Linked DNA regions of Homo sapiens. The protein of the gene in region 1 purifies or fractionates together with the protein of each later gene. This does not show direct contact. Each region holds a gene or a part of one and is shown in the gene's direction. Other genes may lie near its edges.

Region 1 (3,500 bases):
TCTAGCCACATTTTTTTCCAACGAAAATGGGGTCCTTATATTTTTTAGAAATATATTTATTAGAAAACTTTTAGTAGGGGTGTATTGCTGGAGATGAAATAAAATGTGAGAGTGGAAAGAAAGACTAGGAAAATAGCCTCCCAAATACAGAAAGCAGAACAATTCGGGCGGGGCGCGGTGGCTCACACCTATAATAATCCCAGCATTTTGGGAGGCCAAGGTAGGAGTATCACGAGGTCAGCAGATCGAGACCATCCTGGCTAACACAGTGAAACCCTGTCTCTACTGAAAATACAGAAAATTAACCGGGTGTGGTGGCAGGCGCCTGTAGTCCCAGCTAATTGGGAGTGCAGTGGCGCAGTCTCACAGCTCACTGCAGACTTGACCTCCTGTTCTCAAGCAATCCTCCCTCTTCAGTAGCTGGGACTACAGGCACATGCCACCATGCTGGCTAATTATTTTATTTTATTTTATTTCATTTATTTGAGACAGAGTCTCACTCTGTTGCCCTGGCTAGAGTGCAGTGGCATGATCTCGGCTCACTGCAACCTCTGCCTCCCGGGTTCAAGGGATTCCCCTGCCTTAGCCTTCCAAGTAGCTGGGATTACAGACGCCCGCCAACACGCCCTGGCCTCCCAAAGTGCTAGGATTACAGGCATGTGCCACCACGCCCAACCTGTAATTTTTTTTTTTTTTTAAGACGGAGTCTCACTCTGTCGCTAGGCTGAAGTGCATTGGCTCAGTCTTGGCTCACTGCAACCTCCGCCTCCTGGGTTGAAGTGATTCTCCTGCCTCAGCCTCCCGAGTAGCTGGGACTATAGGCACCTGCCACCACACCCGGCTAATTTTTGTATTTTTAGTAGAGACGGGGTTTCATCATGTTGGCCAAGATGGTCTCGATCTATTGACCTTGTGATCCACCCGCCTCGGCCTCCCAAAGTGCTGGGATTACAGGCGTGAGCCACCGCGCCTGGCATAACCTGTAATTTTAAAAAGAAGCTAAATAACAGGTAGTAAAAGATCTCCTTAAACCAACTACTTGGTCAAATTATATTAATCTTTTTATAGCTTTTAATTTATATAGCCAAGCTGTCTTCTGGAAGCTTGTATCAGTTTTTACTTCCACCAGTGATACAGTCAAGTATTCTACAAACACACTGGAAATTATGCTTCTTGTCCAACTGAGAAATGCGTATATTTAAATTAGTGCCACTTTAATATTTAGGAAATAATTTCAGGCTGGGCGCGGTGGCTCATGCCTGTAATCCCAGCACTTTGGGAAGATGAGGCGGGCGGATCACTTGAGGTCAGGAGTTTGAGACCAGCCTGTACAACATGGTGAAACCCCGTCTCTACTAAAAATACAAAATTAGCTGGGCATGGTGGCTCATGCCTGCAATAATCCCAGGCCGAGACAGGAGAATCTCTTGAACCCAGGAGGCGGAGGTTGTAGTGAGCCAAGATTGCGCCACTGCACTCCAGCCTGGGCGACAGAGTGATACTGTGTCTCAAAAAATAATAATAACAACTTCAGGAAAGTCTTTTTTTTTTTAATTTAATATAGATGTTCATGTTCTTGTAGGAAAAGCTGAATCTCAGTTGTATCCATAGTCCTGTTGTTAATGAACTTATGAGAGGAATTCGTTCACAAATGGATGGATTAATCCCTGGGGTAGAACCACGTGAAATGGCAGCTATGTGTCTTGGATTGGCTCACAGGTGAGAATTACTGGAAAATAAAGTCAACTTACTTTTATTTGATAAGCGCTTAACATAGATCTGTTCTAAGAATGTTACAAATGCTCATTTGAACCACATCAGAACCTTATGAAGAAGATGATAGTAATATCCTCATTTACAGATGAAACTGAAGCCCAAGGTCAATACAGCTGGTAAGTGGTAAAGCCAGGATTTGAACCCAGGCAGTCTGGCTCTATTGTCTGGATTCTTAAAACCTTAAAACCTCATCAAAGGAATTCTCTACTACTCTGATCTTGGATGCCCTGTTTCTTGGGCTTTCCCTCCTTTATCTCTGCTAAGTCATGCCACTCCTCCATCTACTTAGTATTCCCCCAAATTCTCTCATCTGCTATGGTCTTATGGGATAGGTGTGTATTTGTGTTTTCATTGCTTTACTCTGATTTTTAATAAGGCAAAGAGGACTAGGTGCAGTGGCTCACCCCTGTAATCCCAACTCTTTGGGAGACCAGGAGTTTGAGACTAGCCTGAGCAACATAGCAAGAAATATGTCTCTCTCTGTGTTTTTTTGTTTGTTTTGTTTTTGTTTTGTTTTTTTTGAGGCAGATTCTCACTCTGTCGCCCAGACTGGAGTGCAGTGGCGTGATCTCTGCTCACTGCAGCCCCTGCCTCCCAGGCTCAAGTGATTTTCTTGCCTCAGCCTCCGAGTAGCTAGGATTACAAGCGTGCACCACTACTGCCCAACTAATTTTTGTATTTTTAGTAGAGACGGGCTTTCACCATGTTGGCCTGGCTGATCTTGAACTCCTGACCTCAAATGATCCATCCGCCTTGGCCTTCCAAAGTGCTGGGATTATAGGCATGAGCCACCACACCCGGCATTTTTTTTTTTTTTTTTTTTTTTTTGAGTCAGGGTCTCACTCTGTTGCTCAGGCTGGGGTGCAGTGGTGCGATCTTGGCTCACTGCAACCTGGACATCCTGGACTCAAACAATGCCACCTCAGCCTCCCAAGTAGCTGGGACTGCAAGTGTGCGCCACCATCCCTGGCTGATTTTTTAACTTTTTGTAGAGACGGGGTTTTGCCATGCTGCCCAGGCTGGAACTCCCAGGCTCAAGTGATCCACTTGCCTTAGCCTCCCAAAGTGCCGCGACTGCAGGGGTGAGCCACCATGCCCAGTCTTCTCCCTATTTTTAATTGCATGTTAACCCTATCATATTTCATTAGAAGTCCCTTAGAATAGGCATTATTGCTATGTTGTGATACATCTGTTCATGAAAAGCTTAATACTTTGGAATTGCACTACAGTTAACAGGGTTGTGAAGAAAATAATGGTAGGTAGTTGCTCAAAACCTGTGCAACTTTGTAATCAGTACTGTCAAATAGTAATCCTAATAAAATTATTACCACAGTTCAAAAGACATTTTAAGCTAATATTAAAAGAAACACTACAGGCTGGGCACGGTGGCTCACGCCTGTAATCCCAACACTTTGGGAGGCCAAGGCAGGCAGATCACAAGGTCAGGAGATCGAGACCACGGTGAAACCTCGTCTCTACTAAAAATACAAAAAATTAGCCGGGCACAGTGGCGGGCGCCTGTAGTCCCAGCTACTTGGGAGGCTGAGGCAGGAGAATGGCGTGAACCCGGGAGGCAGAGCTTGCAGTGAGTGGAGATCGCTCCACTGCAGTCCAGCCTGGGTGACAGAGTGAGACTCCATCTCAAAAAAAAAAAAAAAAAAGGGAGAAAGAAACACTATAGGCCAGGCGCAGTGGCTCACGCCTGTAATACATCCCAGCACTTT
Region 2 (3,500 bases), on another chromosome or scaffold:
ACCCTGGGCTAGAGCTTCTCGTTTTGTCCTCTTTGTCTTTTAGCCTCTCATATTTGTTATCTTTTTGACTCTGCTAAATTATGGGTAATTTCTTTTAGATCTTTGTTCCAGTCTAATTGTCTCTTAAGCTATGATTAAGTGACTGATTAATCCAATCTATTGAATATTTTTTTCCTTTTCATTTTGAAAAGTTTGGAACCTACAAAAAACTTGAAAGAATAGTGTGATGAGCCCCTCTATACCCTATACCTAGATAGCCAGTTATAAATATTTTGTGACATTTGCTTTTTCTCTAGTTTATTTCTGAACCACTTGACAGTAAGTTGTAAGGATGTCTTCCTACATGACCACGGTGCCATCATCAGACCCACCTTGCTAATGCTATTATATTCCCCCAATTTTTGTCAATTAAAAATTAAATTAATTAATTTTTAAAAAATGAGCAGCAGAGCCAGGGAGAGAATGGTGTCTCAGGAACCAAGAAAGGAGAACCTTTAAAGAAAGGAGTAGGTAACCATATCCACTGTGGTAGAGAAATCACAAAGATGAGGGAGCCTGGCAGCTCATCATATGATTCCATGAGCAGTTAACAAATGTGCTTTCAAAGACAACGAAGTTAAATTGTTTTAATGAAAAGAAAATATAGGTGATAGAAATCAGAAAACATCTTTCCAAGTTGTTTCAGTTTTTGGCTTTTTAAAAAACACCAGAATATCAAAATGCAATCAAAGATTACACACTGCATAAATTGTTACAAGTTATAATGTCTTTTTTTTTTTTTTTTGAGATGAAGTCTCGCTCTCTTGCCCAGGGTGGAGTACAGTGGCGTGATCTTGGCTCACTGCAATCTCTGCCTCCCAGGTTCAAACGATTCTCCTGCCTCAGCCTCCTGGGTAGCTGGGATTACAGGTGCCTGGCTAATTTTTGTATTTTTAGTGGAGATGGGGTTTCATCATGTTGGTCAGGCTGGTCTCGAACTCCTGACTTTAGGTGATCCACCTGCCTTGGCTTCCCAAAGTGCTGGGATTACAGGCGTGAGCCACTGTGCCTGGCCCCCAGATGTATTTTGTTATGGCCCACCTTTTTTACTCATGTGTGGCCCTTCAAGAGTCCTCTTTTATGTTTTTTTTTTAATTGTAATGTTTTTGTTTGTTTGTTTGTTTTTTGAGACAGTTTCAGTCTGTCGCCCAGGCTGGAGTGCAGTGGTCTGTTACCCAGGCTGGAGTGCAGTGATCTCGGCTCACTGCAGTCTCTACCTCTTGGGTTCAGGTGGTCCTCCCACCTCAGCCTCCTGAGTAGCTGGGACTACAGGTGCACACCACCACGCTTTGGCTAATTTTTGTAGTTTTCGTAGAGATGGGGTATCGCCATTTTGCCCAGGCTGGTCTTGAACTCCTGGGCTCAAGCAATCCACCTGCCTCGGCCTCCCAAAGTGCTGGGATTGCAGGCTTGAGCCACCGTGCCCAGTCCCGGTTTTATTCAGGGGTTTCTATCTTAAGTGCTATACCTTGCTGAGCTTTCCTGTATCTACAGTCTCTGAACTTTCAAGGCAAATAGTTTACTGCTCTGAATGTTATTATTTATTCAATTCTAGGTGTTTTGTAAGAGGAGAGGTTTTCAGTGGACCCAGTGTGCCATATTGCTAGAAGCATATGTCTTTCATTTTTTTTGGTGATATTGTATTGCTTTCCTCCCAGGAAATATGAGAAGTGCTCAGCACTGTGGTATTACCTTATAAGTTTGTCCACTCCCTTCCAATGTGTATGAAGGAATTTGGTGACTTCTGCTTAATGGTTTGCTGCAGGGTCCCAAAGTTTAGGCAACTTACCTGGGTGACAGGCAGAAATACTGCTTATTTTAGAGATGCAAATGCATGGTTCATATGCATTTCCACTCTTGAGGACCTCACACTGTTAATAATGGGTTTGGGTTTTAGAAGAAGGAGATATTCAGATGAGATTGAAAAATAGAGATTTCTTCAACCTTCTTTTGGCAACAACCTCTTTTTTGTGCCACTTGTCACTCACATGGGGTGAGTACAAAAAAAAATGGCTTTGGAGATTGGGGTTTGCATCCTGGTGCTGCTGCTTGCGGTTTTACCTTGGGTGTGTTGGTAACTTTTGAGTTTGTTTCTTAATCTATAAAATACAAACTAGATGATCAAGGTCATAGGCTAGTTGGGGAGATTCGATGAGGTCTATGCAGCACTCTGTAGTAGGTGTAGGAATAGTAGCCATATCATATACTTTCCCTCTGGAAGTCTTTAAATGGAGGAAACGAGACACACATGAAGCTTTTTTTTTTTAACCAAGTATTTATCATATTTTAATGGAAGTATGTTCATCTCTTCTGTATTAGTTAAAGGGAGGGAGAGTGCCATTGAATTGGATGTGGTCACTGTCTTTGAAGTTCAAAACTGAGGGTAGGGAATTGGGGCTGGCAGAGATACAAGGAAGAGAAAGGAGTAACTGGGAAGGGGTGGTCCTGTCCAGCCTGTGGCCCCACGGGGAGTCTGCTGTTAGAGTGCTGCTCCTCTCATTGTGCCCTTTCATGTTCCAGAGATTTTTTTCCTTTGCTCTTAGAAGAATACCAGTTTTCAAGGTGTCAGCCTTGAGCTCACAAGTGCAGATGCCTAATGAGGCAGGCAACGGGGATGAGGGAAGTGGCTGGGTGCACTGTGGCGTGTCTGCCTTGAGCCCCAGGTGCTCGGCCTTGCTGAAGGTCACCATGAGACTGCAGGCCAAACAGAACCAGGCTGTGAGCAACGAGTTTGCCACTTGTGATCTAGCATGGCACTTTAGTACTTTCATTTGACAGATGAGGAAATCGGGCACCTGAGATTTGCTGAGTGCCCAAGGTCACACTGAAAATTAGTGGCAGAACCAGCACTAATCTTTCTGTTCCTGGCTAGTGCATTTTATACTGTGCTATACACTGATTCTCTACCAGATTTTACTACCTCAAAACTATCACCAAAAGGGCATAGAAAAGAAAATCTGAGAGGAACCTTGACTGTTAATTTTAAGACACCGTCTCAGTTTCACTTTGTTCTTCAGTAACAAGCTTGTTTTCAGTCTTAGCCCATATACCTGGGGAGCTGGCCTTACTCGTGCTCCTGTTTCAGAGTTGAGGAAAGATGAAAATGGCATTTAGAGGCCATGGCATTGCCCAGTTCTGTACCAACTTTAAAGCATTTGCTTGCCATACTTGACATTTGACCGTACACCTGTGAAGTCTGGTTCTGTTTAGCATTTGCCAGCTGTAATTATCTTGTCAAAAATCAATTTGTAGTTTACCACAGGGCGTGTTTAAGTGTAACTTGTTAAGACCAACTCATAGCTTCAAAATCCTACTTGAGGTATCCTTCTTCACTCTTTGTGGGCTACATAACATAAAATGAACAATCCATTCATTCATTCCTTCATTATTTCTGATGGGTTGTAGATTGGTGTTTTCCTGTATTTGTAAAAAGAGAAAGCAGGTATCTCAAAGATCCAGTG
Region 3 (3,500 bases), on another chromosome or scaffold:
GTCCCAGCTTCTCAGGATGCTGAAGCGGGAAGATGACTGGAGCTTGGGAGGTTGAGGCTGCAGTGAGCTGTGATCTTACCACTGCACTCCAGCTTGGGTGACAGAGTGAGACTGTCTCAAAAAAAAAAAAAAAAAATAACTGCTTCCTTTTGACATAGTAATTCCCTATTAAGGAAGATGATCCAAAATGTCAGCAAATAGTTCTTTACTGAGGTGCAGGAAGTTATTATACAATTAGTGTGTGGATGTATTATTAGAATCGTATAGAATAAAAAGAGAAGGTCCCCATGTGCACCCCCTTCCTACATCCCCTTGTATCTACAGGGTCATTATTAGGTTTGCAGGCACCATGTGGATCATAATGCCAAAAACTCAGGAAACTTCCAAAATACACAATATGCTTAAGTAAGTTATGGTTCATGCATATGATGCAGTTACACTGGTCATTATGTCTATGAAAATGCCTGTGATGTAACTGAAGTCTAAAAAGCAAGAAACAAACTTGAAAATGGATTATGTGAAAAATACAGAGTAAGTAAAAAAAAAAAAAAAACGACAAAATGGGCCAGGCACGGTGGCTCACACCTGTAATCCCAGCACTTTGGGAGGCCGAGGTGGGCGGATCACCTGAGGTCAGGAGTTCAAAACCAGCTTGGCCATCATGGTGAAACCCCATCTCTGCTAAAAATACAAAAAATTAGCTGGGCATGGTGGTGCGCGCCTATAATCCCAGCTACTTGGGAGGCTGAGGCAGGAGAATCATTTGAACCTGGGAGGCGGAGGTTGCAGTGAGCCAAGACGCGCCATTGCACTCCAGCCTGGGGGACAAGAGCGAGACTTCTCTCAAAAAAAATATGGCAGAATGGTAGTCAAGGGCCATTTTTGTCCTTCTTTATACATCCAGGTATTTTTCAAGTTTTTTTTTTTTCTTAATGGAAAAGTGAAAAACATAATAGTAGAAAGAAAAATGTAATGAACCCTTTAATTTATTACTTAGGTTTTTTTTTTTTTTTTTTGAGATGAAGTCTTTCTCTGTTGCCCAGGCTGGAGTGCAGTGGCTCGGTCTTGGCTCACTGCAACCTCCACCTCCCGGGTTCAAGCAATTCTCCTGCCTCAGCTTCCCAAGTAGCTGGGATTTACAGGTGTGTGCCACCATGCCCTCATTACTTAGTTTCAACAGTGAGCAATGCTGCGCCCATCTTATTTTCATTTCTTTGCTCCTCTATTTCCTTCTGAGAGCAAGTGTTGGATTTTTATTTAGCGAAAAAATAAGATATAGAGATAGAACTGCTACAAGGGCTGATGGAAGGGCAGGCCTGTATTAATAGCCCTTGTCTCTCTTCAGTTGCTGCCCATTGAAAGAGCTGCTCGGAAGCAGAAGGCCCGGGAAGCTGCTGCTGGGTGAGTTTTGGAAGCTATTGGGATGGAGCATAGGAAGCCACTGGGGTGGGGAAGCTGTGAGGAAGGAGGAGGTATCTGTTTTGGTCTGTGAATCACTCTGTTCCTGGACCTGTTTCTAGGATCCAGTGGAGTGAAGAGGAGACCGAGGACGAGGAGGAAGAGAAAGAAGTGACCCCTGAGTCAGGCCCCCCAAAGGTGGAAGAGGCAGATGGGGGCCTGCAGATCAATGTGGATGAGGAACCATTTGTGCTGCCCCCTGCTGGGGAGATGGAGCAGGATATCCTTGCAGGGCAGAGTGAAGAGTTAGGAGGAAGGTGGTTGGGAGAGGGATTTCCAGGCCTTAGGACATCATGACACAGTTCCTTAACAGGCCCACATGCCCAGGCTCCAGACCTGCAACGAGTTCACAAGCGGATCCAGGATATTGTGGGAATTCTGCGTGATTTTGGGGCTCAGCGGGAGGAAGGGCGGTCTCGTTCTGAATACCTGAACCGGCTCAAGAAGGATCTGGCCATTTACTACTCCTATGGAGACTTCCTGCTTGGCAAGCTCATGGACCTCTTCCCTCTGTCTGAGGTACTGGATTGCCAGAATGCCTCTTTTGCTTTTCTTTTCTCGCCTCCTTACGCTGTGTAAGGAAGATGTTCGGCCCCCTTGCTCCCCTCTTCTGACTGAGCTCCTTAGCCAGCCTCACTTATTCCCTGCTGTCTTGCCCCGCAGCTGGTGGAGTTCTTAGAAGCTAATGAGGTGCCTCGGCCCGTCACCCTCCGGACCAATACCTTGAAAACCCGACGCCGAGACCTTGCACAGGTGAGGGGTGGCCTTTGAGGCTCACTCATCTCAGAAGGGAAGTGACTTCTGCCAACTCCAGAGATTCCTCTGTGCTACCCTGACTGGGTGGGGCCTTAGGACCTAAGCATGATCCTGGGGGGGCAAACCCAGAGGCCTGATGTCTCTGGCAGGATAGGATCTGGGGGCCTAGGACCTCTGTGGAATGGGAAGTTCATACTCTGCTCCCTGTGACTAGGATGATGAGACTTCAGGATGAGCGTGCTGCCCCCAAGGAAATTGGAGGGAGATCATTGAGGAGCTGGGGAAATATGATTCCTGACTGCACAAAAAAGACACATATGCACAGTCAATATTTTAAACTCATTTCCAAGGGTTCAGGGGCCCCAGGTTAAAGACCCCTGTTGTAAAGTCAGTTGTTGGGTTATATGTGTTGTATATTTCCTGGTGTGAAGAAAACCTAATAATGTAATGTGGTATAACCAATGTCATTAAATTTTTAGTATAGTGGAGGGGCTCAGCCTCTTAGAAAATCAGATGCCACTTCTAGGAAATAAAGTAACAGGAGGTGGCATCCTGCTCCATTGGGATGAAGTTCAGATCTTGAGTTAGGAGCCTGAGGTTAAGAAAAAAGGGCACCATAGGATGGAGTGGGAGAGAGAAACTGCTCAATGACTCCATGATGACTGTGTTTGGAGTAAGCACTATAGGAGTTGTGGGGTATGGGCCATGTTTTTATGAAGCATGTGTTTAATGTCTTCATCTGTCTTCTGGGTAGAGTAGCCTATGAGGTTATTAAAATCTTCATCCCTACCGGGCGCGGTGACTCAACGCCTGTAATCCCAGCACTTTGGGAGGCCGAGGCGGGCAGATCACCTGAGGTCAGGAGTTAGAGACCAGCCTGGCCAACATGGTGAAACCCCATCCTATGAAAAATACAAAAATTAGCCAGGCATGGTGGTACATGCCCGTTGTCCCAGCTACTCAGGAGGCTGAGGCACGAGAGAATCGCTTGAATCTGGGAGGTGGAGGTTGCTGTGAGCCGAGATTGCGCCACCTCACTCTAGCCTGGGCAACAGAGTGAGACTCCATCTCAAAAAAAAAAAAAAAAAATCTTCATCCCTTTTCAGGCTCTAATCAATCGTGGGGTTAACCTGGATCCCCTGGGCAAGTGGTCAAAGACTGGACTAGTGGTGTATGATTCTTCTGTGCCCATTGGTAAGTCTCCCCCACCCAAGAGCCCTTCTACCTCTGTCCCTGTCCCTACCGCATGTCACAGGGTGGTCCTTCTCCACAGGTGCTACCCCCGA
Region 4 (3,500 bases), on another chromosome or scaffold:
GTTTCCACTTTTGAAGGATGATTTTGCAAGGTTCAGAGTTTCTAGGTTGGTGGTTTTCTCTCTCAACACTTCAAATATTTCACTTCACTTTCTTCTGGCATGTGTGGTTATCATTCTTATCTTTATTCATGTGTTAAGTACAGTGTTTTTACCCTTGTCTTTTAGGATTGTTTTTCCTTTATTTCTGATTTTCTGTTGTTTGAAAATGATATCCCTAGGTGTAGTGGGATTTTTTTGGCCTTTGTCCAGCTTGGTGTTCTCTGGGCTTCCAGTGGTTTTGTTCCCAGACCAAACTGGGTTGGGCTGCTGTTTCTCATGGCCCAATAACAAGATGCAGATGAACTGGGGAGGAAGAGAGTTTTTATTTTTGTACCTGGTTACAGGGAGAAGGCCTAGAAATTATTGCCAGACCAACTCGAAATTACAAAGTTTTCCAGATATTATATACCTTTTAAGCTATATGTCTGCGTGTAAGTGTGTATTCATCTAAAGACATAAGTGATGAAACTTCTTTTAATCTGTAACTAAGGTCTGAGTCTTGAAGACCTTCCTCTGGAGTCTCAGTAAATTTACTTAATCTAGGTGCTGAGGTGATTACCCTTATCTTGTCTCCTGCTCGTGGAGGTTTGGGGAGTTCTTTCAGACATCCAATAAACTTGTTTGTGGAGGCCTGGGGAATTTCTTTGTTATGCTTTAAGGCCCAGGAAAGGCCTAGGCAAAACTCTTGGTGGGCTTTTGTTAGATTCCAGCCTTTGTATAAGGGCACTGGCTTTTTTTAGCTTTTAATATTTAACTTAACCAGTCAGTCAGTACTGAAACAGTTGTTATGGAGCCCTGCATTAATGAGACATGGCCTGCTACAGTTTGGTGTCTGATACTAATTTGGGGGAAATTCTCAGTCATTATTGTGTCAAATATTTCTTTTGTTCTTTCCTCTCCTCCTGATAGTTCCATTCCATGTTTATTATACCATTTGTAGTTGTTTCAGTTCATAGATACTCTGTTCTATTTGTGTCAGTCCTTTTTCTGTTTTCTTTTCAGTTTTAAAGATTTCGAATGAGATTTCCTTAAGCTCAGAGATTATTTCCTTAGCTGTGTCTTGTTTACTAAAAAGTCGATCAAAGGCATTCTTCATTTCTGTTGTTGTTGATCTCTTGCATTTCTTTTTAGTTCTTTTTTAGAATTTCCATCTCTCTCCTTACATTGCCTATCTGTTCTTGTATGCTGTCCACTTTATCCATTTAAAGCCCTTAGCATATTAATCGTAGTTTTAAATTCTTGGTCCGATAATCTCAACATCACTGCCGTGGCTGAATCTGGTTCTGATACTTGCTCTGTCTCTTCAAAATGTGTTTTTTATATTTTAGTATGCCTTGTAATTTTTTCTTGATAGCTGGACATGTACTGGGTAAAAGAAACTACTGTTAAATAGGCCTTTGGTAGGTGGTTTTGGTATTAAGAGTAATGCTGATCTCCTAGAATGAGTTGAGAAGTACTGTCTCTGCTTCTGTCTTCTGAAAGAATATGATTATGTGCTGATTAGTATTAAGTTAAATCTCAGAGAGAACCTCCTGTAGATCTTGGGTGTTCTTTTTGTGTTGTACTCTGCGTTATGAATTTTAGGTCTCTTGGCCTTCTCAGCTCTGAACTGTGTTTTCTCAAATCCAAGGAGCATCTAAACTCTGGTTGAGTTTACCTTTCCTGCACTGCAGCCTGGAACTGTCTGCATAGTAATCTGAGGCAGTATTGGGGCTTATCTTGGGTTTTTCTTTCTGAGATATCACTACTCTGTGGTTTTTATTGTCCAATGGCTGAAACATTATTTTATGTATTTTGTCTGTTTTTAGTTGTTCAGCGTGAGAGAGGGTAAGTTACTGTTACTCCATCATGGCTTGATGAATAAATGTGCTGCCCAGGATTCATAAGGATATAATGGTAATCACCCTCGTTGGCTGACTTTGGAGAGAACTAGTCTCCTTTGCCTATACACATTAACGGAGCTGCTTTAAAGGTAGTGCTTAAGCAGTCATCATTTGTTGCCACTGGTTGCTGGATAGGTTGGGAAGGTCAGAAGCCACAGTCCACCATCTTTGGAGATTAGGAGGGAAGTATTAAGTCATTTGAACATAGTTTTTATTTTCATTTTCCTTGGTACATTGTTAGGACTGTCCTGATGTATACTTTACATAAAGGGATGAGGAAAATGGCCAAGCATGACCCAGCTCCTTTTTCCAACCTTTTTTTTTTTAATGTCATATAGTGTCAGACCTCTCTTAGTAAGTTTTACATTATCAAGTGTTGTTTATAGCATGTTGTAATAGTTAATTATATTTGATTATAAGACTATGGAGAAATCTGAAATGGTTACTCATCAGTAAAAGCTGACAGCTTTAGAATTTTAAAAATGATTTTCAAAGACTTCACTTTGAATGGGGTGCCTAGTATTTGAATGTTGAACTCCCTTGTGTTAGAATTTACATTTACATTGCTACCAATCTTTTATCTTTCAGTTATTCAAGCGGAGAAATGTTGCTACAGCAGAAGAAGAAACAGAAGAAGAAGTTATGTCAGATGGAGGCTTTCATGAGGCTCAGATTAGTAACATGGAGATGGCACCAGTAAGATAATGAACTCTTTTCAGTGTTTTTGTGATGAAGATATGAGATGTAGATTTCCTTTTGAGTTTTAAAAAAGGTTAGATGGCTACAAAAAGTACTTGGCATTTCATTTTTAAAAAGAATATGCTTAATCTCATGGTTCATTAAATGTTTATTATATTTTGGATAAAGTGCAGTTAAATTATAAAGATTAATTCTGCTCTAAAAACTTAACAAGCTAATTATAAGATAAAATTACTCTTTAAAAGTTGAATAAGAATAGACACCTTATTTATTTATTTATTTATTTATTTATTTATTTATTTATTTATTTATGTTTTAGAGACAGGGTCTTGCTGTGTTGCCCAGGTTGGAGTGCAGTGGCGCAATCGTAGGTCACTGCAACCTCGAACTCCTGGGCTTAAGTGATCCTCCTGCTTTAGCCTCCCAAATAGCTGGGACTACAGGCATGTGCCACCATGACTGGCAAATTTTTAAATTTTTTGTGGAGACAGGATCTCACTGTGTTGCCCAGGTGAACTCCTGGCCTCAAGTGATCCTTTTGCCTTGGCCTCCCAAAGTGCTAGAATTACAAGCTTGAGCCATCACACCAAGCCATAAGAGATACTTTAAAGAAAATAATGATTTTTTATTGATTTACAAAATTGACCTGTTTGTATGATTTAAAAACTTGATTCCACATCAGAACTCTTGGATTTTTCTGTTGTAAACCATTTTGTTACTTTTTTGAAGTTAACATGAAGAGATAAAAGTCATGCTTTATTTGTATGGATTAGACCTATCTAGATTTCTAGAGTATTGTAATTACGTAATTTTAAAAATAGGTTATATATGTGTACATATATATATATGTGTACACACACACAGTTTTTTTAAAAAGAA
Region 5 (3,500 bases), on another chromosome or scaffold:
CACGTCAGAAGAAATACTGAAGATGATTGAGGAGAACAGGTACCCTGACTTAAGCAGATGGGGATTCTGGGGAGTGCTGTTGGGACCCAACAGTAGTCAGACACTGTGCAGGTCCTCTGGGCGTCAGTCAGTGAGGAAGTGTGTCTGGAGCATTGGACATGAATGAGCCAGTGTTTTCTTGAATGTTTGGGCTTTCAGGAGCTGTGGGTCACATTCGAGGGAGAGGGCTGGTCTCTGAGTCCGTGGGACCTGCGACAGGGCAGAGGGTGGTGAGGCCTTCTACTCTGGGGCTGGGAACTAGAGCTGGCCTGTGTCACCCAGTGTCATGCTGGTGCTGATTGTCACTGGCAGGGCCCAAATGCTGGCCTGGGAATGGGTGCTGGCCAAAGTGATGGTTTCTCTGTGATGATATGGTAGGCAAACTTTTCTAACATTAAATTTATGTATTTAAAATATTGTATATTTTAAATAATTCAGAGATTATTTCCTTCTCCCTCCCCTTTCCCATTAAAACAGCTTCTTTTATGATAGTGAGTTTTTTTTGCTTTTGAGTTTTTTCTTTTAATAATTTTATTTTGATAAAGAGTTGTCAATCTGAGGTTTGTTCCTCCAGTTTTTGTTTTAAAATTTTACTGGTCATTGAAATCCAGTGCCTTGGAATTATTATTATTATTTCTTTTTTTTTTTTTTTTTTTGCTTCAAAGATTTATTTCCAAAAAAGAGCTCATTACTAGTTCATAGTTGTCTTAATGTGATTGTGACTCAGGGGCAGGTGCAGGAACGAACTCTGAGCGGGGAGTCTGAAAACTGAGTCCCCGAACTCTGCCCTTATCTTCCCTTCTTGAAGCCTCAGTTTTTCTATCTGTAAAATGAGGCATCTATGAGATGATCTTGAAGAGCCTTTTTATCTCTGTGAGTCCAGGGTCTTGCTAGCAGTAGAGCAGTGCCTGAAAATAATAGTTAGCATTGACTGAGCCTTAACATTTTTGCCAAGCACTGTTCTAAGAGCTTTACTGGCATCATCTCTTAATCCAGAAAAAATGCTCAGGAGGAGAGTACCTGTACTATCATTGGCCCCAATTTATAGATGGAGAAACCAGGGCACCAGATACCAAGAAACTTGCCCCGCTGGGCACGGTGGCTCACACCTGTAATCCCAGCACTTTGGGAGACTGAGTCGGGCAGATCACCTGAGGTCGGGAGTTCAAGACCAGCGTGACCAACATGGAGAAACCTCATCTCTACTAAAAATACAAAGTTAGCTGGGCGTGGTGGTGCATGCCTGTAATCCCAGCTACTCAGGAGACTGAGGCAGGAGAATCGCTTGAACCCAGGAAGCGGAGGTTGCGGTGAGCCAAGATTGCGCCATTGCACTCCAGCCTGGGCCACAGAGTGAGACTCAGTCTCAAACAAACAAACAAACAAACAAAAAAAGAAACTTGCCTAAACCATTAAATGGCAGAGAAAGGATTGAAACCCAGGCAGGCTGACTACAGAGTCTATGCTCCTGACTATAAAAACAGAGGTCAGAGGTTAGCAAACTACAGCCCACATGCCAAGTCTGGCCTGCTGCCTGTGAGTAAGTAAAGTATAAATAAAGTTTTATTGGAGCACAGCCCTGTTCATTTACGTAAGTAATATCTGTGCCTGCTTTCGCACTACGATGGCAGAGTCAAGTAGTTGCAACAGAGGTTGTATGGCCTCCAAAGCCTAAAATATTTACTGTCTAGCCCTTTATTCATCCCTGCACTGAACCATGTTCTCCTATTATAAGGAGTGTTGAGTGTACTGGCCCTTCATCAGCTGCTTTTGTTCGTTTGTTTTTTTTTGTTTCTGAGACAGGGTCTTGCTCTGTCACCTAGGCTGGAGTACAGTGGCGCAGACAGCTCACTGGAGCCTCGACCTCCTGGGCTCAAGTGATCCTCCCGCCTCAGCCTTCCGAGTAGCTGGGACCACACACATGTGCCACCATGCCGGCTACGTTTTTGTAGAGATGGGGTCTTGCCTTGTTGCCCAGGGTTTCATCAGCTGTTGAGTGCGTCGGGGTGAGAGGCGCCTGCTGTTCTCGTTGTAAGAGGGAAGTAGTTCCTGACAGAGCCCATCTTACCCTGACACAGGCCTCCTTTTCTTTTCCTTGTTTTAGCCATTGCACCTTTGTCATAGAAGCGTTGAAGTCTTTGCCATCAGATGTGGAGAGCCGAGACCGCCAGGCCCGATGCATATGGTTTCTGGATACCCTCATCAAATTTCGAGCTCATAGGGTAGTTAAGCGGAAAAGTAAGTCTATGATAAACATTTTATTCTAATTGTTTCCAGTATATTATTTGTCTGTAATTCTTAGATGAGTTCTGATGAGAGAAGAAAATGGATATGTCTGTCCAAGTCTTTACTGTCAACTGTGAGATTCATTCTGGTACTGCTGACATGTCGAGGGGACTTGCCAGGCCCCTTTTTCTCTCTGGATCTCCCATTTTCTCATCTGAAAATTGGGGCCACGTTGGATTATATGATAGTTCAGGGTCCTTCCAGAGCTAACATTTGCTACTTCTATTCTGCATGAGGCAAAGTAGAATATCCAGGTCAAATAAAAGGAAAACTTTAAGGGACTGTTAGAACAAACATCAGCCACGTGTGTGCGTGTGTGTGTGTATATATAGAGAGAGCTTATGAGTTACACAGATGTATCTTGAAGGCTTGTGGCAGGTTTGTGTTGTGTCAGCTTATTTCTAACAGGAGAGAGTCAATCTGATGGTAACCCAGTGTCACCTGTAGCTAGGATCCTTTGCGGGTCACACCCTCATACCTACCCAGAGTTGGAAACCCAGAAGATGTCTGTGGTTTTAGGCACAAGGTGTATTTAGTTGTTGTTACTGTGATTGGGCATCCAGTAGTCTATACTCCTGTTTTTCAGTATAGTCATGTGTCGCTTAATGATGGGGATATGTTCTGAGAAATGTATCCTTAGGCAATTTTGTCATTGTACAAACATCATAGAGTATATTTACATAAACCTAGATGGTATAGCCTACTACACACCTAGGCTATATGCTATAAGCTGCTGTTCCTAGGCTGCAAACCTATACAGCATGTTACTATACTGAATATTATAGGCAATTGTAACACAATGGTATTTGTATATCTAAATATATCTAAACAGAAAAGGAATAGTAAAACTATGATATTATAATCTTACGGGACTGGCTGGGCATGGTGGGTCATGCCTATATCTCAGCACTTTGAGAGGCCAAGGTGAGAGGATCACTTCAGGGCAGGAGTTTGAGACCAGCCTGGGCAACATACCAAGACACTGTCTCTACACAAAAATAAAAACATTAGCTGGGGTGGTGCACGCCTGTATTCCCAGCTATTTGGGAGGCTGAAGCAGGAAGAGTGTTTGAGCCTAGGAGTTCAAGGTTACAATGAGCTATGATTGCACCACTGCCTCGGTGACAGCAAGACCCTGTGTGAAAAAAATCTTATGGGACCACTGTCACATATGT
Region 6 (2,988 bases), on another chromosome or scaffold:
GCACTCCAGCCTGAGCAACAGAATGAGACCCTGTCGCTAAAAAAAATAAATAAATAAAAAAGACGTCTGCATCTGCTCAGGGGCAGATGGGCATGTGGGCAGTACAAAATTGCCTCACAGCACGTGCCACATGGCTTGCTTTTTGGGAAGTCCTCCCTGGGCCTGACCTGTCTCTCGCCTGCTGTAGTCCAGGTCCCCTTTGCCCTCTCCCCATGCACCCTTAGGGTCTGGCATTCCGCAGAGGCACCCACCAGCTCTACAGCACATCCCACGATCGCTCCGTGAAGGTGTGGAATGTGGCAGAGAACTCCTACGTGGAGACGCTGTGAGTGTGGATGGGAGAGGGTGTGTGGATGGTGTGAGAGAGGGTGTGGGAGTGTGTGCCCGTGAGTTCATGCAGTACCCCTATCCCCACTATCCTGCTCTGCCCGGCCCTCTAGCTTCGGACACCAGGACGCTGTGGCTGCACTGGATGCCTTGAGCCGGGAGTGCTGTGTGACGGCTGGGGGCCGGGATGGGACTGTACGTGTGTGGAAGATCCCCGAGGAGTCCCAGCTTGTCTTCTATGGCCACCAGTAAGGTGGCCTGCCATGCCAGTGGGGGCTACATGGGCTGGGGGTGGGCTTGGGCCACGCTCCTCACAGCCCCTTTCTCCAGGGGCTCCATCGACTGCATCCACCTAATCAATGAGGAGCACATGGTGTCCGGCGCGGACGATGGGTAAGAGGTCCTTTGGATGTCTCTGGCCACGGCTTCTGCTCCTGAGTGCTGGCTGTCCACGGGGCCCTGAGCTTGCCTCAGGGCACCCCCAGTGGGGGAGCTGTTGTAACCTCTTTTCATGGATGAGGATGATGAGGCAGAGAGCTCAGATGGCCTTGTCCGGGCTGTGTGCCCTTGATCCCTTCCTGTCATGTGGCCTTTTTTCTTTTTTTTTAGAATTAAAAAAAATTTGTTGTGGGTGCTTAGTAGGTGTACGTATTTGTGGGGTACTTGAGATGTTTTGATACAGGCATGCAATATGTAATAATCACATCATGGGAAATGGGGTATCCATCCCCTCAAGCATTAATCCTTTGTGTTACACAGGGGGCCTTTTCTGCCTCTGGCCCCCTCACTGCTGTATTCCCTCCCTGTTTATAGCTCTGTGGCCTTGTGGGGTCTCTCCAAGAAGCGACCACTTGCCCTGCAGCGTGAAGCTCACGGGCTGCGGGGAGAGCCAGGCCTGGAGCAGCCCTTCTGGATATCGTCGGTGGCAGCCCTCCTCAACACAGACCTTGTGGCCACAGGTGGGTGCCCTGAGAGGCAGGGAGGAGGGGTCGCCGGGTGGGCCGGTGCAGGGGTTGCTCACTGTTCCAGTCTCCCCAGGCTCCCACAGCTCCTGTGTGCGGCTTTGGCAGTGTGGGGAAGGCTTCCGGCAGCTTGACCTTCTCTGTGACATCCCCCTGGTGAGTGAGTGTGCTTGAATGCTCAGCCTGTCTCTGCCACACTGCCTAGGCCCCTGGAGTTAGCTCTTTAAGGTCTTTCTTCCTGCCAGAAGGGAACCTTCTCAGGGCAGGGCCAGCTCCTAGCACAGGGCCTGGCAGGAACCCTCCCCACTTTCCCTCCTCTGCTCCCCTTCCTATCCTAGGCCCTGTCCAGGGTGCTGGGGTACAAGTCAGGGAGCAGCATGGGGAGAGGCATGGAGGCCTGGCCCTGTGATGAATTCTGTACTGCTGGTGCCAGATTGGGTGCCAGGCTAGAGGGTGTGGACCTCACTGTCCACACTAGGGTGACCTGGGGGAGGGTGGCAGGATCTGTCAGTGATGTGTGCTGAGAATGCAGGGTCTAGGTCAGTGGGGACAGTCATGGGGTCTCCAGGGCCCCACCACCAGGAGCCAGCCTCAGGCCATACTGGGTGTACACTGCCTCCTTCATCCTCACAAACTCACTGCTAGCCCCGTGCTCTGCTTACCCCCATCTCGCAGATGTGGAGGCTGAGGCCCTGACAAGTGAAGGGCTGGCCTGTGTCACCAGGTGGCAGGAGGCAGAGCAGGGATTTAACCCAGGCCTGATAAGGCCCAGCCCTTGACTGTGATGCTGAGGACGGTGGTGGCGGGGGGCGTTCTAATGTCTTTCCGTGTTGTCTTTCTGCTCAGGTGGGTTTTATCAACAGCCTCAAGTTCTCCAGCTCTGGGGACTTCCTGGTGGCTGGGGTAGGGCAGGAGCACAGGTATGTGTGGCCCTCGAGGGTTCAGGTAAGGTGGTGCAGGCTGGACAGCTCGGTGGAAATGGGGTGGAGACTGGGCCGAGTCTCAGCTGCGTCTTGCACTCCCTGCAGGCTTGGCCGATGGTGGAGAATCAAAGAGGCTCGGAATTCTGTCTGCATCATCCCACTCCGCAGGGTCCCTGTACCCCCAGCTGCTGGTTCCTGACACTCTTATCCTCCTTATTTAAGTCCTTCCCAGGCTATGCCCCACCCTCTTTGTATTAAAAGCCTCCTCTTTTGGGCCTTGTTTCTTGTAGCTTCTTGGTGGGGGTGGGGGTGCATGAGGGACTGGGTGGGAGGCGGCCTGGGGAGGGACAGGACTCCAGCAGTCTCCTAGCTCTGCCCCTCTGCTAGCCTGAGGGCTGTTATCCTTTTCCAAAGAACTTGGGATGGAGACCTCAACTGGCTCCTGGCTCCTGTCCCTGCGTGTCCTGCACGACCTCCTCAGGCTAGCTGCCTGCCACTGCTCTGGGTGGTCGGGGTCAGAAGCTACTCACCCCTCAGCTCAGAAGCCAGGGCTTGTAAGGGCTGGTGCTGGGGTCAGGACTGGACTGTAGACAGCGGACCTGCACATCAAACTGGCTTCGCTTCCTCTCCCAGGTCAGGTCAGGAAGCTGGAGGGGACAGACTGCCGTGAGGTGTGGGGGTCAGGAGTGGGAGTGGGACCCTGCACTGGTGGGCTTACTGTTTGGAGACAGGGGTCCAAGTTGGGAAGAGCTCTGTCTTTGGTCTGAATGTCAGAA
Region 7 (3,500 bases), on another chromosome or scaffold:
TCCAACCTAGGCAACAAGAGCAGAAATCCATCTCAAAAAAGAAAAAAAGAAATTGAAATTATTTTTTCCCATTGACTTTTAATAATAAAATTAACATTGTTTTCATGGGAAAACATTTGGAATTGAAATGAAATAAAATCCATTCTAAAGAATGCAATAGGCCTCTTGAAGTTAAATATTAAAATGAAAAAATAACTCATTACAGCATTAAATTGTTAAGATTAAAAATAAATCCATAATACAAATAATTTTCTGCAGTTCACTACGACATGCAAAAAATGCAGTCCCCTGAGGTTTGGCCTATGGGAAAGTGTGTTGTACCTAGGGTCACTCTGCACTTCAAATACTGAAGGTAACATTTACATTATAAAAATTCTGTTAATATTGCAGGCATGTAGTTTATTTTATTTTTTTCTGAAAGGGCTGTCTGTGGCTCTTAATGTATTTTGTTTAACATCCTACATAAAAGTTTTACAGTAAAAAATGGTGTATCTTTTTGTGAAATGAAAATACATCAGCAATATTCAATGGGACTGGATAAAATTCCCCTTGTTTGAACCTTGATTTTAAGGTTAGGAATGAAAGCATTTTGTTGATGGAGATAATAGAGGTAAGAGGTACCTTTTAAAATAAATTGCACATAGCAGAAGAGGTAAGTGACAAACTTTTTAATATTTCACATGAGAATAATCTCAAAGTATATATCTATTTTTTTGACAGTATTCTTCTTTGTATCTCAAATTGTTTTGCTTTTTAAACATTCTTATTTTAGTTATCTGGAGCTTTGGAAAATGCAAAAGCTGAGATTCAAAGAATGCAACATGAAAAAGAGCACTTTGAAGATTCCATGAAAAAAGCTTTCATGAGGGGTGTATGTGCATTAAATCTTGAAGCCATGACTATATTTCAAAACAGAAATGATGCAGGTTAGTATTTCATTAAAGTTTCTCTGCCTAATTTCAAAAAAAGATTTGAGGAGATTTTGGTGATTGGTATGGTCTACAGTACAAATAATCTGCAGTAGGTATGTTTCATCCAGGTGCTGCTATTCTTAATTCTATGGTGTCATATCCAGACTTAAATCTGCCATGAAAATGAGCTCAGTCATGGTTACTTATGGTATCTTAGATCTGATCAAGTACACTGTCACTCCTAAGTATTTAAGCTAAATGTTGAAAATAATATTTTAATGTATAGCATTATTTTAAATCTCTTTTAACTAAGAATTTTAATGCCTTTTTAAGTACAAAACTTCTAATTTTGTCTTTTCTTAAGTAGCCAAATATTTTGGACTATTTTGGTAAGTATTTGTTATCTAGTCATGGTTTCTCATTTTAGAAATTCCTAATCTTCCTGTTTATGAAAGGCCTCAACTAAGCTCATTGCAGCAAACATAAATATAGACCTATCTATAGAAGTAATTTTATTTTTTTTAAAAATCCACATATTGTCTGACATAAGAGTGGTTTGTGTAGTAGTTTTGTCAGCATGGCGTAGAAAAGCCCATAACTAGAATCCTTTGCCACCAATTTACCCAGGGGCCTGTTTTCCTCATTCGGCCTTAGATTTCTTCTCTGAGCGAAGGAGATAATATAAACCTTCCTTACCTGCTTCCTAGGGGCTTCTTGTGGGATGCAGTAAAACATATCTGAAAACACTTTAAAAGACAAAATGCACTTTAACGTGTAAGATGATAGTCATGATGTAATTATTAATAGTTTTAATTCAAGTCAACGTCTCAAGATTTTGTAAATGATTAACATGATTTCAATCCAATGAATAACTTCTCTGTGCTTGTGATGCCCTTATTTTAAAACATCAACAAACATTTATTATTTAAAGCATGCATATTGTGGATAGGAGTAAGTTTAGGCAAATTGCTTTCTATCTGAAGTGGTTGTGGTTTGTGGGCCATATTTAATTTAGAAACTGAGAATCATGGAATCTCAAGGCTGAATAGTTTATTTTGGTAATACCTAGGTGAGTACTTGATTTTTCCAATAAATGGTCTTTTATTTGAGTATCAGGGTTGAAAACAAACTCACCACCTTCAATGATAGAATAGTCTGTTTCAGTTCTAAGTATCAGCAAGTTGTGTGTCACAAATTGAGAAATTTAATTGTTTACTTGGGAGAAATATGAGTTTCACAAGTAAAGTGACAAATTCCTATTAGAACTTCTTACATTAAATTACAAGAAACCTGTTTCTTATAACCTACTTAAAAAGATTTTGAATTGACTTAGGAGTATTTCCCACCTTAATACATTTACCATCTTAAAATGTAAATTGAAATGCAACTGTGTCTCCTAAAGGCCAATATCCATAAGAGGATTTGAAGAAAATGTCTTCTGCTAATTACACAACATGATTTCTTTTGCTCCTGTTACTTTTGAAACAATCGATGAGAAAGATGACAAGAATGGTAAAGCATGCATTAGCAATAATGTTGGTAGAGCTACCAAAGGCAAAAAAGTTCAGTATAATTCAGTGGATCTGCTTTGTGATATTTAGGTTTTATGACATTTTAATGACACCTATTTTTTTTAGTTCTCATAAGAAAAAAAAATTACTTTTGGCCCCCTTCTATTAAAACAACTGTTTTTTATAGGCCAGGCGCGGTCGCTCACACCTGTAATCCCAGCACTTTGGGAGGCCGAGGTGAGTGGATCACGAGGTCAGGAGATCGAGACGATCCTGGCTAACATGGTGAAATCCCGTCTCTACTAAAAATACAAAAAATTAGCCGGGCGTGGTGGCAGGCACCTGTAGTCCCAGCTACTCAGGAGGCTGAGGCAGAAGAATGGCGTGAACCCAGGAGGCAGAGGTTGCAGTGAGCTGAGATCATGCCACTGCACTTCAGCCTGGGCGACAGAGCGAGACTATCTCACAAAAAAAAAAATTGTTTTTTATAATGCAGTTTTTAATAATGTAAAGTTCCTAATGCATCTGTCTTGTTAGAGCAAAATAAATATTTGGTTTTTTATTTGTACCGATTCTTTGCTGTCTGTAATTTGCAGTACCTCTCATGTTGTGCAGTATCTTAAATCTTACAAATTAGAGGTTTTTATGAAGAAGTTAGAACATGACAAAAAGTCCTTAAAATTATATCTGCCAATTTTACTGTGCCAATTAGGCACAGTAAAAAAAAATACTTGACAAGTGAAAAATTTATTCCAGCTAAAATGAGATTAATTATTAAACTTAAGAGTTATCTGATATCAGCCTATATTAGCAAGAGTTGATCACCTGCCTCTCTTCCCTGACCTTCATACTGTTTCTACATCTCCTAATGTCTGCCACCATCTAAAGATAGACACTCAGAATCTCTACCAAAACAAGTTAAAACTCAGTGTGTGTTTTGTTTTCAAATTAAAAGTATTTTATATTGAATTAGTCCCTTTCATCAGAGGAGTTCAAAGGATCTAGGTAGGCACTGTAATCATTGTTAAACTTCTTAAATAAGCTAACTAACTAATACTCTGCAAATTTTCTATACAGA

The links.
Region 2: the proteins of NOP58 (region 1) and RUVBL1 purify together in Homo sapiens (affinity purification with mass spectrometry; 4 studies listed by BioGRID and IntAct, with this or other methods). This does not show direct contact.
Region 3: the proteins of NOP58 (region 1) and NOP2 fractionate together in Homo sapiens (co-fractionation; 2 studies listed by BioGRID). This does not show direct contact.
Region 4: the proteins of NOP58 (region 1) and KPNA1 purify together in Homo sapiens (affinity purification with mass spectrometry; 3 studies listed by BioGRID and IntAct, with this or other methods). This does not show direct contact.
Region 5: the proteins of NOP58 (region 1) and POLR1E fractionate together in Homo sapiens (co-fractionation; one large-scale study listed by BioGRID). This does not show direct contact.
Region 6: the proteins of NOP58 (region 1) and RRP9 purify together in Homo sapiens (affinity purification with mass spectrometry; 2 studies listed by BioGRID and IntAct, with this or other methods). This does not show direct contact.
Region 7: the proteins of NOP58 (region 1) and POC5 purify together in Homo sapiens (co-immunoprecipitation; 2 studies listed by IntAct). This does not show direct contact.

Annotation. Positions count from the first base shown.
Region 1 is NC_000002.12:202,282,763-202,286,262, forward strand, and holds part of NOP58 (nucleolar protein 58), read left to right. Parts: intron 1-1,582; coding exon 1,583-1,719; intron 1,720-3,500. UniProt on the Homo sapiens protein: Required for the biogenesis of box C/D snoRNAs such as U3, U8 and U14 snoRNAs. Part of the small subunit (SSU) processome, first precursor of the small eukaryotic ribosomal subunit.
Region 2 is NC_000003.12:128,113,813-128,117,312, reverse strand, and holds part of RUVBL1 (ruvB-like 1), read left to right. Parts: intron 1-3,500. UniProt on the Homo sapiens protein: Possesses single-stranded DNA-stimulated ATPase and ATP-dependent DNA helicase (3' to 5') activity; hexamerization is thought to be critical for ATP hydrolysis and adjacent subunits in the ring-like structure contribute to the ATPase activity.
Region 3 is NC_000012.12:6,561,792-6,565,291, reverse strand, and holds part of NOP2 (28S rRNA (cytosine(4447)-C(5))-methyltransferase), read left to right. Parts: intron 1-1,043; coding exon of another isoform or gene 1,044-1,142; intron 1,143-1,345; coding exon 1,346-1,401; intron 1,402-1,520; coding exon 1,521-1,678; intron 1,679-1,777; coding exon 1,778-1,977; intron 1,978-2,121; coding exon 2,122-2,211; intron 2,212-3,320; coding exon 3,321-3,408; intron 3,409-3,487; coding exon 3,488-3,500. UniProt on the Homo sapiens protein: S-adenosyl-L-methionine-dependent methyltransferase that specifically methylates the C(5) position of cytosine 4447 in 28S rRNA. Required for efficient rRNA processing and 60S ribosomal subunit biogenesis.
Region 4 is NC_000003.12:122,466,440-122,469,939, reverse strand, and holds part of KPNA1 (importin subunit alpha-5), read left to right. Parts: intron 1-2,510; coding exon 2,511-2,618; intron 2,619-3,500. UniProt on the Homo sapiens protein: Functions in nuclear protein import as an adapter protein for nuclear receptor KPNB1. Binds specifically and directly to substrates containing either a simple or bipartite NLS motif.
Region 5 is NC_000009.12:37,495,948-37,499,447, forward strand, and holds part of POLR1E (DNA-directed RNA polymerase I subunit RPA49), read left to right. Parts: coding exon 1-39; intron 40-2,143; coding exon 2,144-2,277; intron 2,278-3,500. UniProt on the Homo sapiens protein: Component of RNA polymerase I (Pol I), a DNA-dependent RNA polymerase which synthesizes ribosomal RNA precursors using the four ribonucleoside triphosphates as substrates.
Region 6 is NC_000003.12:51,932,929-51,935,916, reverse strand, and holds the end of RRP9 (U3 small nucleolar RNA-interacting protein 2), read left to right. Parts: intron 1-224; coding exon 225-325; intron 326-440; coding exon 441-575; intron 576-657; coding exon 658-720; intron 721-1,140; coding exon 1,141-1,286; intron 1,287-1,365; coding exon 1,366-1,445; intron 1,446-2,135; coding exon 2,136-2,209; intron 2,210-2,317; coding exon 2,318-2,411; 3' UTR 2,412-2,488; downstream 2,489-2,988. UniProt on the Homo sapiens protein: Component of a nucleolar small nuclear ribonucleoprotein particle (snoRNP) thought to participate in the processing and modification of pre-ribosomal RNA (pre-rRNA).
Region 7 is NC_000005.10:75,686,438-75,689,937, reverse strand, and holds part of POC5 (centrosomal protein POC5), read left to right. Parts: intron 1-772; coding exon 773-926; intron 927-2,609; coding exon of another isoform or gene 2,610-2,728; exon of another isoform or gene 2,729-2,990; intron 2,991-3,500. UniProt on the Homo sapiens protein: Essential for the assembly of the distal half of centrioles, required for centriole elongation. Acts as a negative regulator of centriole elongation.